Regions from separate parts of the Homo sapiens genome. Here region 1 is linked to region 2. Evidence: fine-mapped expression QTL. Tissue or cell type: whole blood. Region 2 holds a variant in brackets; the other region holds the start of a gene. All regions are shown on one strand. Distances are between the middles of the regions.

What was found. PIP is the estimated chance that this variant, and not a neighbour inherited with it, causes the effect.
Region 1: it holds the start of TNFAIP6, and the variant in region 2 is fine-mapped to the expression of TNFAIP6 in whole blood (TOPMed, PIP above 0.99).

The regions. Positions count from the first base shown.
Region 1 is chr2:151,353,117-151,361,212 of GRCh38, forward strand. It overlaps TNFAIP6 (TNF alpha induced protein 6), which reads left to right and starts at 4,476. Exons shown (of 6, transcript NM_007115.4): 1 at 4,476-4,644. The coding sequence starts at 4,551. All of the region lies in intron 2 of LOC101929319 (a long non-coding RNA gene), which reads right to left.
Region 2 is chr2:151,137,397-151,145,505 of GRCh38, forward strand. No RefSeq gene overlaps it. Among named protein-coding and RNA genes, the nearest start is that of RBM43, 120 kb to the right of the region's middle. The variant A/C (reference allele first, on the strand shown) is at 4,758.

The DNA.
Region 1 (8,096 bases), 220 kb after region 2:
GTTATGCTAGCAGTAATAAATGACCCCAAAATCTCAATAACGTAAAATAACAAAAGTTTATAGTTCATTCATGTTATATAAAATCCAGGGATCAATTGGAATCAGGGTGAAAGAGCAGCTGTCATCACAAATGTTTCCCGCCATGCCAGAAGGAAAGAGTTCTGGAGCATTAGCAATCAAATTCTCACTCTAAGATGACATACATAATTTTTGCTCACATCTCATTAGCCAAAAATAATCACATGGTTCCACCAAACCACAGAGGGACACACATACAATGCTATCATGTTTGCTGGAAGTTGACAAGCTGGAAATATTTGGTGAAGATTACTAACAACTGTCACACTGCATTAACAACTGGAAGTCCGACATCAATTTTGGATCTCTTTCTGACATCTGTTTACCCATAAACTTGAAAGTGCATTATTCCATTCGGTGTTGTACATAGGCTCATATTCACTGTCTCAAAGCTTTTTGATATACAATAATTAAATAGGCTGGGCATGGTGTCTGATGCCTATAATCCCAGCACTTTGGGAGGCCGAGGTGGGCAGATCACTGGAAGTCAGGAGTTCGAGACCAGCCTGGCCAACATGGAGAAACCCCATCTTTACTAAAAATACAAAATTAGCCGGGCATGGTGGCGCATGCCTGTAATCCCAGCTACTCGGGAGGCTGAGGCAGAACTGCTTGAACCTGGGAGGTGGAGGTTGCAGTGAGCCGAGATTGTGATTGCACTCCAGCCTGGGCAACAAGAGCGAAACTCTGTCTCAAAAAAATAAATAAATAAATATTTCACTTTTCCAAAGATTTCCCATTGTTCTAGTTAGGCTCTATCCTGCTCACTGACCCTGTAAAAGTTTGCACTGATTATTGAATGAACGAGTACAATGCCACATGTTTCATTTCTTTAAGTATGTTCTATGTCACACATAAGAATTTCTCTCCAATCATTTTAAGTCACACTCAAGGGGAATGGGTTTTTCTTCATTTATTGCTTTTATTCCTATCCTAGTCCATGTGGAGATTCTGGGATGGGTGGGGCATTCCTGTATTGCAATTTTATGTCCTTATTGGCAGTGTTAAAAATGTCCTGTATTGACATATTTTGTGATTCACGGAGCTCCACCCTTTGCTAATCTCATCTTGGTTTTTTTCCTGCTCTTTCCAAGATTGCAACATATGCTTAATAAAGGATATAATTTATATTTTAATTTTCATACAGTGTATCAAAGAATTGCATTTTTGCACATCTTGCCATTCAAATCCAGTCTTAAGTATAATCAGACATGTTGTCTTAGAACCTGTTTTCCTTCTCTCTTTCTTTTTCTCCTGTCTATATTCACCTGACACTTCTCCATCCCTTTTTCCTGTCAGCTGAGACTCAGCATGTCAAAAGGATATAAAATATTTCCTCTTAACTGCTAATAGATGTTTAAAATTCTACTTTAGCGTCTCTCTTGCTGTTTTTTTTCTTTCGAGACAGCATATCGCTCTGTTGCCCAGGCTATAGTGTAGTGATATGATCATAGTTCACTGAAGCCTCCAACTCCTAGGCTCAAGTGATCCTCCTGCCTCAGCCTCCTGAATAGCTGGGACTGCAAGCACACACCACCACACTGGCTAGTGTCTCATTTTTTCAGTTAACTTTGTGCAATAGTGACATCATTAACTATCGTGGCAGCTTAAGAGATCTTAAGCTTGTTCAGTGCAGCCCTATCCCAATTCAGATATGGAGTTCTCTCCACCATGCCTTTAGGTATCTAATAGCTGCTTAGGCTTACGGGCATTGGAACATTGTAGAAAAGCAACCAAAACAGGAACTCCTCTACAAAAAGCAGTCTTGCTGGGTTTTCAGCTAGTGGTGATATGTGCGAAAGGAGCCACTGCACATCTTGACCCAGAGATAGTGGAAGGGGAGGGCATTCCTCTGAGAAGGCAAAATACTTGACTGGTTAAGTCTTCCAGAACCTTGAAAGGAACTTTTTTTTTCTTTTTTTAAGATGGAGTCTGGCTCTGGCACCCAGGCTGGAGTGCCGTGGCGCGATCTTGGCTCACTGTAACTTCCGCCTCCCGGGTTCAAGCGATTCTCCTGCCTCAGCCTCCTGAGTAGCTGGGATTACAGAAGCAAGCCACCACACCCAGTTAATTTTTGTATTTTTAGTAGAGACGGGGTTTCACCATATTGGTCTGGCTGGTCTCAAACTCCTGACCTCGTGATCCTCCTGCCTCGACCTCCCAAAGTGTTGGAATTACAGGCATGAGCCACTGCATCCGGCCTGAAAGGAACTTTTATCAGTGTATCTTCTCTCAGCTCCTCATGAGGCTTATCCTGGGTGGTGTGTGCTGGAGGCTGGGCAGAGGGTGCTTCTTAGACAACTTCCAAGGTAAGTTCATAGGCAACATTTCCTTTGCTACTCTCTCTTTTCTTCTCTCTCGTCCTCAGGATTACCCTCTGCATCTTTTCCATATGAAAACCCCATTTCCTCTTTCCTTTATTGAATGCCCCTCAAAATCAGAACTTACATCATTAGGCATTATTCTCTATTTCCTTGATGATATGGAGGATGAGATTTTCAGACACTATGCAGAGGTAAGGGGAAATATTTATATTCTGCATGAGAGTTGGGAGAGGGGAGAAAGAAATCCTCCACCCCAGATCGGGTTAATTCATCAAAGCAACTCATTAAATTTTCGTGTTAAAAGAAGTTGAACATTCACACTTCGCTCTACTTGGAGCTTCATTAAAATGCAAATGAACACAGAAGGGTATCTGTTCTTAGTTATCTGGCCTAACTAAAGATTAATTGCAAACCCTTTCCTGAGAGTAATTTTTGATAAATGAGAACTAGGGGGAAATTAGGTGCTTGAGAGAGATGCAGAAAGGGCACAGCTGGAGGATGTGACAAGAAAAGAATTGGAAAGACTATGGGAAGGTTTTGCTGTAGCACTGCACAACTAAAGTTATATTTACTTCCTAAACCACAAACTTAAAATACGCATATAATTATACTTTCCAAAGAAATATCATGGTTTATTCCTTCCAACTACCTATGAATCTTGCTCTCAGTAACCATGCCTGTCTTCTCCATAGTCACACCCACCTGGTCTAAACTATACCTTTCTCTTTTGCAACAAACTTAAATTCACTAACCCTATCTGTGAACTTGGATACAATTCCCTCATCTTTCATGTGCCACCAGTCCAAAATAAAGATTTTCAATGCTAGTAACTTTATGTATACCTCAGTGAGCATCCAATAAATTCTGTACTCTCAGCCTACATCCCCATAACTGCTCTTTTGAGAAGAGATGAGACCAGAACACACCTGAGATGTTCAAAGCAAAGATGTCTAAGGGATTCAAAGCTAACTTCAAACCAGAGCATGTCTAGCAAGTTGGCTTTTTCAAAGAACTCCAACATCATTGGAGGGACTAAGAAAGCATGGGAGAAATGAATGCTATAATAGGAGTGAATGGGAAGCAATTTGAGACCAAAAGTAGAGAATCTAAGTAGCAAAAAATGACCAATTTTGTAAAAAAATCAAAAGTTGCCAATAAATGGCTATCAATGAACAATAGGAAATGCCATTAGCATCAGCGGTAGTGGGAGTATTATCAGATATGTTACCCAAGGATTCTACACAAAGGAAGAGGAAAGTTTGGGATATTTGAAGACATGATGACTTTACTGTAATAATTATTATCTATTACCTTGATCGTCTTCTTCAAAGTTAGAGTGGTCTAGGGAAGCTAGGGACAAGTTTTTATTAACTTTGTTAGTCTACCCACCTTTCTCCCAACACTTCAAGAATTTGTGGCCTGGGAAAACTGTGTTATAATAGGACATCCCAAAGCTGCTGGAACATCCTGACGCTCTGAAATTGAAATACTTTTCTGGGAGCTGATACATTTATTTAGCTGCTGACCATAACACACCAAAGACTGCAACAGACCCCACCCTGGAAGAAAAGCAGGCAGAGAATAAGGAAGTCATATATCACTGGAGAAAAATTAGGATTCTCCAAGCTGTGCATACTTTTTGTTTTAAATTTTTTACACAGGCTTGACAATGTTTAGAAAAGCCAGTCCAACATTACCAATAAAAGATTAGTGTTTAACCCCATATCCCATAATTGACACTGCAAATAAGACATTTAGGATTTATCTTGAAATTCCTACTGAAGTTCGATTTTCTTTTAATCACTGCTAAATCTGCATCAAGTTACACAAACTTTCTAACAGAAAAGTGTTTGTGACTAACAATAAATGAACTCCGTTCTTAGTAAGTTAATTTTAAAACATAGATGATCATTCTATCTCCTTAGTTTTGGTTGCCAATGCAAATGAGTCAGAGGATTTGCTTCAGACACTGAGATAATTGTGTAACTCTACAGCGGAAAATGCCATTGGAGAGTACTTGCTGACCTCACAGTTGAAAAAAACTATTTAAAAGATGTGGAAACCAGATGTTTCAGTCACATTTCAGCCACTGCTCTGAGAATTTGTGAGCAGCCCCTAACAGGCTGTTACTTCACTACAACTGACGATATGATCATCTTAATTTACTTATTTCTCTTGCTATGGGAAGACACTCAAGGATGGGGATTCAAGGATGGAATTTTTCATAACTCCATATGGCTTGGTAAGAACCTTCACTCATGAGCCTCTTGTTGAGAATGTCAATTCTTTAAATCATGGAGAAGGAAATTTAAAGCAGTAACTTTTTCTATTCTGTACAAGGCTGATGTTCTCAAAGAAAATGCTTAGGAAAGATAGCCTTTGGAATACATACGCTTTTTTTTTTTTAAGCGTTCTTGTCCTCTAAAATTTAAAAATAGCATTTTATAAAGTGAATTGTTCAGTAGAAAATAGCAGTTAATATTTATATTCAGTATGAAAATATATTTTTAAACTTTTCAAAGCAGATGTAGTAGTACAGTGAGGAGTATTTCTTTAACCAACTAGAAACTCCAATATAGTCTTCTGTTTTTATGTCAATGCATTTGCAATCAGATTTCAGAATCCTAACAGGTAAATTGGAGTCTACGAAAATTTTATAATAATTGCTTCATGGACTCTGAGCTATAGTCTATATCTTAGTTTTTTCAAACATTTTGACTATTTTGACCAAGCCAGCTTGCAGTACAGAAAAAAGTGAAAAATGTTTCTCCTTCTGAATGCATTCTTACCACTTTGATTCTTTCTGTTTCTACTATCCATATAAATACTTTTCTGACCCTTTTGTTAGACAAGGAAAGTTTCTTTTGTTATTTTGTTTTGTTAAATGTAAGGAATGAGACAGGCCAAACAGTGAAGATAAACAATAGATCAAAAAAGGAAAATGCAGAAAATCCAAAACACCCCTTAGATTACAGTATGCTAAACAATGCTTTAATTCTCATGATACAAATTGATATTGCTCTATGTTCATTATTGTGTTTAATAGTAAAAAAAAATTGAATTTCTTGGGGAAAAATGCATAGATTCTTGCATAGAATAAAGAAATAAAGAGAAGGCGAAATTAACCTAGATTTTGATTTTATGCTTTCTAAACAGCACAGTTGTAGAATATTTTCCCTTTCAGCATGTTTCTCTCTGGTAATAACTGCAACCATGCGGATTTCATTAAAAAGCCTAATTTGTAATGCACAGCCTTGCCGCCTATTTTTTTCAGCTTGAGCCAGTGAACTAATTTCACTGTGATCCATTTGGCCAAGACGGGATCTGAAATTTAGTAGAGGAATGAGCCCATCTCTTTATTTTAGTTGAATACAGTCAAATATAGGAAATACACTCATATTTGTCAGGATTTTTTTTAAATGTCATAAAGCTAGTAAGAATTAAATCCAGGCAGATAAACTTTGAAATATTATCAAACCCTCTAATAATCAAGTAATTTAGAGTTGTCTTTTAAAGTGTTGTCATATGTTACAAAAATATAAACCTGGACAATAGAAGTTTTGCCCCAGAGGTAGAGAGAAGCAAATTCAAACGTCTATTAATGTATGCTACAAATCTGAGGGTCAGGATAATTGCAAATTGCTTCAATCTGGGGCAAATTTTTGACCAGCCAGCCTAGCACAGATGTTTATAGTTGGTTGGATCAATATAATCTTTTTAGAAACCATTTAGGAAGGAAAGATAGTTGGATTAGAAGGGATACATCTGTTAGCAACTATCAAGAACAGGACACTTTAAATCTAGGGTGTCCCATCTTTTGCCTTCCCTGGGCCACATTGGAAGAAGAATTGTCTTGGGCAACTCATAATTTTTTTTTTTTTTTTTTTTGAGGCAGAGTCTCGCTCTGTTGCCCACGCTGGAGTGCAGTGGCACCATCTCGGCTCACTCCAAGCTCCGCCTCCCAGGTTCACGCCATTCTCCTGCCTCAGCCTCCCAAGTAGCTGGGACTACAGGCACCCGCCACCACGCCTGGCTAATTTTTTGTATTTTTAGTAGAGACAGAGTTTCACCATGTTAGCCAGGGTGGTCTCAATCTCCTGACCTCGTGATCCGCCCACCTTGGCCTCCCAAAGTGCTGGGATTATAGGCGTGAGCCACCGCACCTGGCCCAGGGAACTCATAATGTTTTAAGAAAGTTTACAAATTTGTGTTGGGCCACATTCAAAGCCGTCCTGGCAGGCCGCAAGTTGGACAAGTTTACTTTAAATTCTCTAGGTTATGGTTCCAATCTGGTAAAATGATAAGGTTGAAGTAAAGGATCCCTAAGGCTTATTTTAACTCTGGTATCATCTAATTTTTAAAATAGTACTTAAAACAAAAACAAACCACAGTTAAGGACAAGAAATTACAATCATTTTACATGGATCATGAGAATAAAAAATGCACAGATAAGCAATTATTTTTATTGTTGAATCTGAAAAAGAAGGGAAAGGAAGGTGGGATGCAGTGGTTCACACCTGTAATCCTAGCACTGTGGGAGTCTGAGGTGGGCAGATTGCTTGACCCCAGGAATTAAAAAGACCAGCCTGGGCAACATAGAGAAACTCTGTCTCTACCAAAAAAAACACAATTAACTGGGTGTGGTGGTGCATGCCTGTAGTCCTAGCTACTCAGGAGGCTGAAGTGGAAGGATCACTTGAGCCCAAGAGGCAGACGTTGCAGTGAGCCGTGACCTCACCACTGCACTCAAGCCTGGGTGACAGAGTGAGACCTTGTCTCAGAGAAAAAAAAAGAAAGAAAGGAAAAGTGACGTATCTTGAGTTCCTTCTATGGTCCAGAAGCTATCATTAGTCCCATTTGACAAATGAGGAAACTGAGGCTCATCTGGTTATACAACTCCATGGTAGAAACAGCAGTGGAACCAAAGTCCATTTCTACTGCCGCCACTCACTAAAAGGAGAAAACATTTATTAAACAAATTTTCAGTTTTAATAAATGACTATTGACTAGATAAATTAATAAAATATTATTGCTTCTGAAAGGTAAAATTAGGATTCATTGTACAAAGGTCCATCTTAATAGCTCAAAATTCTGAATTGAGAAATATTTTTAATAAAACACCTTATTTAAAATTGTCAGGTACATACTCCAAGAGTTCTCTATTTGTTCATATGGCAACATACTGGGAAGTTTGGCGCTATTAGAGGAACAATGTGGAATGTTAATATTTAATAAATTAAATCAGAAATTATAACAAAAATTTTTTGCTATTTCTGTTATTATGTTATTACTAGACAAGTTTCAGTAGGTACCAAAAGTTTAAGAAAAATTACTGAGGGTGGGAGAAGGGAGAGGAACAGAGGTACTGGGTTTAATTCCTGGGTGATGAAATAATCTGTACAGCAAACCCCTGTGATGTGAGTTTACCTATGTAACAAACCTGCACATGTACCCCCGAATTTAAAATAAAAGATTTTTAAAAAATGAAAAATTACTTGGAGGAAAACTTAAAATTATTATTTTTTTAAATCTGTTAATTTTTTTGTTTTGTTTTGGTTTGGTTTTTTTGTTTTTTGAGATGGAGTCTCACTCTGTCGCCCAGGCTGGGGTGTTGTGGCATGATCTCTGCTCACTGCAACTCTGCCTCCCTGGTTCAAGCAATTCTCCTGCCTCAGCCTTCCAAGTAGCTGGGAC
Region 2 (8,109 bases):
GAGATTGAGGCAGGCCGATCACTTGAGGTCAGGAGTTTGAGACCAGTCTGGCCAACATGGTGAAATACAAAAACACTAAAAATACAAAAACTACCCAGAAATCCCTTGAACCCAGGAGGCAGAGGTTGCAGTAAGCCGAGATCATGCCACTGCATTCCAGCCTGGGCAACAGAGCGAGACTCCGTATCAAAAAAAAAAAAAAAAAAAAAAAAAGATGTTTTGGGAAGAAAACATTTATACAATTTTGGAATTCCACACTTGCAGAGCTTTTCGTGTAACTAGGACACAGTTCCAATGTCTGGAGGCTCCAGACCTGGATGGAATTGTTGTTAATGCTCCTTTGAGATTGGCCTCCTGCAAGTTTTCTCTCAGATGTATTGTCATCAGCTGCATTTACTTTAACAGACATAAAGCAGGAAAATATTTCAGAAAAATATTGTAAATGCATTATTAATCAATAGTGACCAGAGGTTTTTCTCCTAGCAAATTATCATAAAGCTTTCCGAGGCAGATTGAAAAGCCACTGGTGAGCAGCCTTATTTATTTCTGCCTATAGATATTTTGTGATCAATTATAATAACATTACATCCCTCATTTCTGCTACAATATATTCAATTACATAGTTAACATTTCCTGCTAACCTTTTCAAATACAGGAAAGCGAATTCCACCTACCTGATTGGTATGTTTCTCTAATGCATATGTTATTCTCATTATCCTTAATTCAAGTGGACATTTGCTTTCTTTGGTTACATAGCTGGGTAACCAGTTATTTACCTGATCTGTAGAATGCATTTAAACTCCTATGTTTCAGGGGATTGATTCATACATATTGTTGTCATTATACTTTCTCTTAACAATTTATCTCTCCCAACAGTCTCATAAAACAGGTTGGTATAACTTTACCCCCTTTTATAGGAACCCAGAGACATTACTACTATATTTTGGGGCGAATTTGTGCCAGCCAGCCAGAAATGTTGTCTTAGAGCCCATGCGGTTCCAATCTATCACATATCCCAGACATACCCCACCTCCCAGGAGAGGCACAATTTGGGGGACTGTTATAGCAAAGAGTTAAGAAAGAAGAAACCATTTTGAAAAACATTTATAATACAGGTCATTAATAATTAGCAGTACTAAGTAATTGTAATACCATGGGGCACACAGGACCTTCTCCAAATATATTTTTCTGTCATAATTAAGATGTATGAATCACAGAGGTAGGAAAAATGTAAAGAACATAAACTATTCCATATAAGGTTCGTATTTCTAGGAATGTTCTGCTTTGTTTGGCATAAGCAATGGACTTGAAGGCAGAAGCATAGCTGGAAATGCAAAATGTGCATCTGTGCTTAATTAAGAACATTTTGAGGACTGCATATTAAGCAATGTGATTTTAAGGCTCAATCATTATAAAATGACCAAAAGCTAAGTGAAGAGTAAGTCAGTCAGCCGGTTGTTTTGTCTATAGACTCTAATTTTTGTTCTCACTTAATTGATTTTTTTTGTCTAAACAGGCCAATAGTATTAATTCTATTTAATACATACTTATCCTAAGAAATAAGTTTTCAAAACCACAGGTGTCATGAAATCCACTTTAATTTGGTTTATGAAAATTAGAAAAGTAGACCAACTCTATGTAAAATTATCTTAAGTGTTTTCAGGCCTAGTCAATTCTCTCCATCCAATTAATTTCTGCCTCCATTCATTTTTCTGAGAAAAATGAAGTATTTGATGGTCTTTTTATAAGGTTCCTGCTATAGGTTGGTGCAAAAGTCATTGCCGTTTGGGACTTTTTTTAAAAAAATACCTCAAATCAGTTCCTAAAGATAGTAAAAGGACTGTGCAAAGGCCTGAAGGCACCAGGGATTTGCTGTTCATAGGGCCCCCAAGCAACCATCTGAGCACAATCACACCAGGAGCCCAAGCCAAATTCTCTACTGCCCAAAGCAGAGATTTTGGCCCAAACCACTGTTACGACAGACTTCCACAAAGCCCATCAAGATCTTTAATATTCATCTACAACAGGCGTAGCTGCGGCCAAGGCTAGAGTTTAAGGCTGGGTCTAGAACATAGTTACATGAAACAACTCTGTACAACTGAAGTTTACCCAAAGAAGTTTCAGTTAGTTCAAAGTGCAGTCAGCCATTTTTGGACAACTAGGTTGAACTATATCTATAAATTTAAATATATTTATACATAAATACCTTATAAAATATAAAAATAAAAATAACTTGAGGTTTAGCATTTGTTTACCTATTAGAGAACAACAAATTCTACTGATAGAGACACAGAGACAGAGAGAAAACAGAGATCTTATAGCAGAAATTCTCTGTCCCTAAGAATGGTATATATATTTTTTTATTTTTAATGAAATATATAGTCAGAAAAAATGCATCCAGGGTACAGTTTGATGAATTTTTGCAAGCTAGACACACCTGTTTAGCTGATAGATCCAGAAAGAGAAAATGTTAGCTCCCCAACAGCCCCGCAGGCTCACGGCCCTCACTTCCCTGCCCTGCACCTGCCTCCCTGAATTCCAGCCCCAGGGGCCTGTCCCAGCCCTGCATTGGAACAAAATGCTCCCAAGGCCTGCCTCACTCACTCCTGCAGTGCCAAGACTCTGTACAAATACCTCAGAATGCATTTATATCACCAGAGCCAGGGTGTGAGGGGAACAGAGAGAAAAATCCTGAATTGATTGAGTTTGAACCTTAAATTACTTTGTTGACCAAAATGGGCCATTGTATACTATCAGTTGAAAAGGGGGCATGAAATAGCACTTAGGTTGATTTGGAGAAGAATCAAGTTCATTTTTTTCAACCTACATCCAACAAAACCTAAAGACAAGATTTAAAAAGCTATCGGCCAGGCACGGTGGCTCACGCCTGTAATCCCAGCACTTTGGTAGACCGAGGCAGGCGGATCACAAGGTCAGGAGATCGAGACCATCCTGTGAATGGTGAAACCGTCTGTACTAAAAATACAAAAAATTAGCCGGGTGTGGTGGCGGGCGCCTGTAGTCCCAGCTACTCGGGAGGCTGAGGCGGGAGAATGGCGTGGACCCAGGAGGCGGAGCTTGCAGTGAGTCGAGATTGCGCCACTGCACTCCAGCCTGGGTGACAGAGCGAGATTCTGTCTCAAAAACATAAAAAATAAAAAAATAAAAAATAAAAAGCTATCTATTCATAAACTGTAGCAAGGGAATTATTCTGCAGCCACTTTCCTTTCAGCAGGGGTTCAGAGTGTCTGAGAGGAGAGTACGTTTTAGAGTAGAAAGAGGAAATGCCAAGGAGACAGCATTTGGTGGGCAAGCGTTGTGTGAAGGTGGGACTTTGGGAAGTGGAGTAGACCCTAATTGGCCTTCAGGTACATTTGGCAGATTTTGATAGGCAAGGGAACAAGTGAGTAATTTAGGAACATTTCAAAGGAGGAAAGATCGTTCAGTGTTAGGGGCAGAGCGTTTTCTGTGACCAGCCATTTCCTGAAACATGTCCGGGTCAAAGGGGTGCTATTTTGCAGTGAAACTGTCGTCATGGTCCTTATGGGGGCTGCTGCCACAGCAGACAGTTTCTCAACTGAACACATGCCCTGAAAATTGAGCTAACAACACATCTTGAAGTGTTGCGTTTCCATATGAGTGATACATATGAACATAATGAAAAACTGATTGCAGTGAGTATAAGTACCGCTCAACAATTAACAAGCTCTATGTAATACATACCATTAATCAATTACTCATGCATTACCTAATTTCAGGACTAACCTCCTTCCCCTAAGATGCTATTTGGAAATGGTTCCTTATTATACTTTCTCTCTCCACAACCCAGAATTTCCAGTTCGTGAATAGATTTAAAAGTGGTAAACACTGCCAAAGTAGCATTCCAAATTGGAAACTGTGGTATTCAAACTTTGTTAATATATGTCCCTATAAATAATAAAAATTGTATTACATTTAATAAGCAGTTTTCAGTCTTTATCTTGCTTGATCTCCTGTCAGTCCCAAACCCAGGTGGTCACACCTGCCTTAAAACTCTCCCTGACCCCCATGACACCACTCTTTTTTGGCTTCCCTCCTATTCCCATAGCCCCTCCCTCCTAATCATCTACAAAAGCTGCCTTCTTCCACCCTGTCTCCCTCAGGCTTAGTCCTAGACTCTCTGCTCTTCTCATTCTGTATATTCTTACAAGGTGATATCAGCTACTTCCATGACTTAATTTACAATCCATATGTTATTATCTCCCATATCAATATCTCCAGCCCAGATTTCTCTCCCAAGCTCCAGACATTTTTATTCAACTGCTTCCGGGTCACCTTCATGTGAACCATTCAGAGTACCTCAAACTTAATATGTTTGGTCTGAAACTGAACTTATCAACCTGCCACCATTCAATAAATGCAGTCCAACTATCTGGTATTCCAAGCTAAAGATCTGAGAGTCATCCTTGATTCCTCCCTCTTTATTACCCCCACAACCAATCAATCCCTAAGTTTACACATTTTACCTACTTGATATCTTTTAAATTTATTCACTCTTCCCTATCTCCACTGCCACCTATAGTTCAGACTACACTCATTATTCCCACACACAACTGTGACAGCACCCTTTCGCCATTCTTACTCATCTTTGCCATTCTCCACACTGCAAACACAGTGATCTTCAAAAAGCACTAAGATGGCTATTTTATTCCCCTGCTTCAATTCTTTTAACCAACTCCTATTGCTCTGAGGATGGAGTACTAACCCTCTCTCTTGGC[A/C]CCAAAGCCCTTCACAAATTAGTCCCTGTTTACTCCTCTGGCCTTTGACCTTGTCACACTACGTTCATATGACAATAAAAAAGTTTCCCATGAGGCCAAGCAGGATAGCTCCCATCTATAATCCCAGGTCTTTGGGAGGCTGAGACGGGAGGATCACTTGAGCCCAGGAGTTTGAGACAAGCCTGGGCAACGTGGTGAGACCTTGTCTCTACAAAAATATTTATAAATTAGCTGGGTGTGATGGTGTGTGCCTATAGTCCTAGCTACTCTGGAGGCTGGGGAGTGAGGATCACTTTAGCCCAGGAGTTTGAGGTGACAGTGAACAATGATCACCACTGAACGCCAGCCTGGGTGACCAGAATAAGATGCTATCAAATAAATAAAGTTCCTCATAGAAACAGCTTATGTATTTCTGCCTTTAGATTATCTCTCCATAGAGGGTAGACCAGGTAGAGAAATTAATGTCATAATGCCTTCAACACCATTTGTTTCTGTCCTTATATTCACACAAGTCTACTTTATGAAAATTCCTGGCCCCCAGTACAAAAACTCAAAATATTTGTCTTCAGGTTTCCACCAATAAACTCACTAGGCCCATGTAAATTCTGAATTGTGACCTCAGCTCAGCTGAGACCTCCACTACAACAAAATGGATACTTTTCTACAATTGAAGCAGCAAGGCTGATATAGAGGAAAGACCCTTGACACACGGGGTTTCAAATCTAGTCTCTGTCACTTACCACTTGTGTAACCTTAGGCAGGCTACTTAACGCCTCCAAGTCTTTGGTTACTTATCCATAAAATGGATCAGAATGTCTATTTTATTTGATGGAGGACTATAAAACAGCTCAGTGCTTGAAATAACTGTATGTATTCAACAAGTATTGGCTCGTTTGTTCTTTTGCAAGCCTCCAAGAATTATGTAGAGGTGTAGACTTTAACATTGCACCCTGCATCTGAATTGCCATGGGTGCCACAGAAACTGACATCCTCCTCTGTCTGACACTTGGCTTTCTTTCAAGTCTGTTCAAGTCAAGCAAAGAAGATTTACATTAGGCTATATTTTCATTAAAATATCACTCCAGATACTACCACCTTTGAAAACCCCAAACAAGTAAAAATGGCTCTTCTTTTTAATATAAAATTAATTTCAGTTGAGTATTATGGGTTTTGCCACTTTCAACATAAATAGAAAATCTGAATTTCTTTGGTTGAAATTCTAATAAGGTCTACCTTGTTGGGTCCTTTTTAATTTTTCCTACTTTTTCCTTTTCAATATTATCTATCAATATTAATATAAGCCCAACTTTTTTCTTTCTAGAAAATTAGAGTGAATATCAAGATACTCATAAAGCACATTAGGAAGCATTTCTGTTGGATTTATTACTATACTCTTAGAACCTTAAAGTCAAGAAAAGACTTACACACAGGGAGAACACATATCCCAGTTTCCCCAGGACATCTGCCCAGCTTATCCTTGTGTTCATCTATTGTCCTGAGTAAATTGTTAATAGTACCTTTCACTCGCAAAAGTGATTAGCTTAAATGATAAATTGTATGGTCATGGACATATCATGTAGTCAGATTGTTCAGACACCTGGTGCATTTTAAAAGTATATACTCATGGCCAAATTCAGTGGCTCACACCTGTATTCCCAATACTGTGGAAGGCCGAGACGAGAGGATTACTTAAGCCCAGTAGTTCAAGAGAAGCCTGGGCAACATAAGGAGGCCTCATCTCTACAAAAAAAAAATTTTTTTAATTAGTCGAGTGCGGTGGCACACGTCTGTGGTCCCAGCTACTTGGGAGGCTATTGTGGGAGGACTGCTTTAGCCTAAGGGGTCAAAGCTGCAGTGAGCTGTGATTGCACCACTGCACTCCAGCCTGGGCAACAGAGCAAGACCCTGTCTTTAAAAAATAAAGGCCAGGCCTGGTGGCTCATGCCTGTAATCCCAGCACTTTGAGAGGCCAAGACAGGTGGATCATGAGGTCAGGAGATCGAGACCATCCTGGTTAACACGGTGAAACCCCGTCTCTACTAAAAATACAAAAAATTAGCCAGGTGTGGTGGTGGGCGCCTGTAGTCCCAGCTACTCGGGAGGCTGAGGCAGCAGAACCACGTGAACCCGGGAGGCTAAGCTTGCAGTGAGCTGAGATCGCGCCACTGCACTCCAGCCTGGGCGACAGAGCGAGACTTCATCTCAAAAAAGACAATAATAATAAATAAAATAAAATAAAAATCTTTACTCTTTAGCCCTATCATGTACATCAAAATCAGTATGGGACTCAAATTTATCTTATGAAGGTTCCCAAACAGTTCAAGTAATCCGCCAGTTTTTAAAATGCCCTTGTCTAATTTGCCCCCTTGTCTACTCTTTTCTAGCATGGGAGGAACTTCCCCCAGAGAAGGCTGAGAGATACCAGAGTGTGTTGGTTTTTCCTCAATTAGAGATTTTTTAGAAAAAGACTGATATCATTTCCTAAGAATGCAGATGAGGTGTCCTGCCAGCTTCTTCAGGTGGATTTCCCAGGATGATTTCAGCATTCTAATAATGAGAAAAGGTAATATTTATGGAGAATTTACTGTATGTTGGGTGCTATACTCAGTAATTGATTTGTATTGTTTTATGTAATTCACTTAAAAACTCTTTAAAGTCTCACCAAAGGAGATATATGGATGGGAAATAAGTACATCAAAAAAAAGTGCTCACCATCATATATCATTAGGGAATTGCAAATTCAAACAATGAGATACCACTACACACCTATTAGAATAATTAAAATCTAAAGCACTGACACACCAAATGCTGGTCAGGATGCAGAAAGGCAGAGTCTCTCATTCATTGCTAGTGGAAAATGCAAAATGTTATAGCCACATTGGGTAACAGTTTGGCAGTTTCTTACAAAGCTAAACATATTCATCCCCTACAATCAAGCAATTGCACTCCTTGGAATTTAACCAAATGAATGAAAAACACAAAAACCTGCAGCATTATTCTTAATCGCCAAAAGTTGGAAGCAATCAAGATGTTTTTCAGTTAGTGAATGGATAAATACACTGTGGTAGATTCAAGAAATGGAATATTATTCAGCAATAAAAAGAAATGAGCTATCAAGCCATAAAAAGGCATGAAGGAATCTCAAACGCATATTGCTAAATGAAAGAAAGCAATCTGAAAAGACTACATACTGTATGATTCCAACCATATGACATCCTGTAAGAGACAAAACTATGGAGATAGCAAAAAGATTAGTGGTTTCCAGGGGCTGGGGTCGGGAGAGGGATGAATAGGCAGAGCACAGAGGATTTTGAAGGCAGTGAAACTATTCTGCATGATACTGTAATGGCAA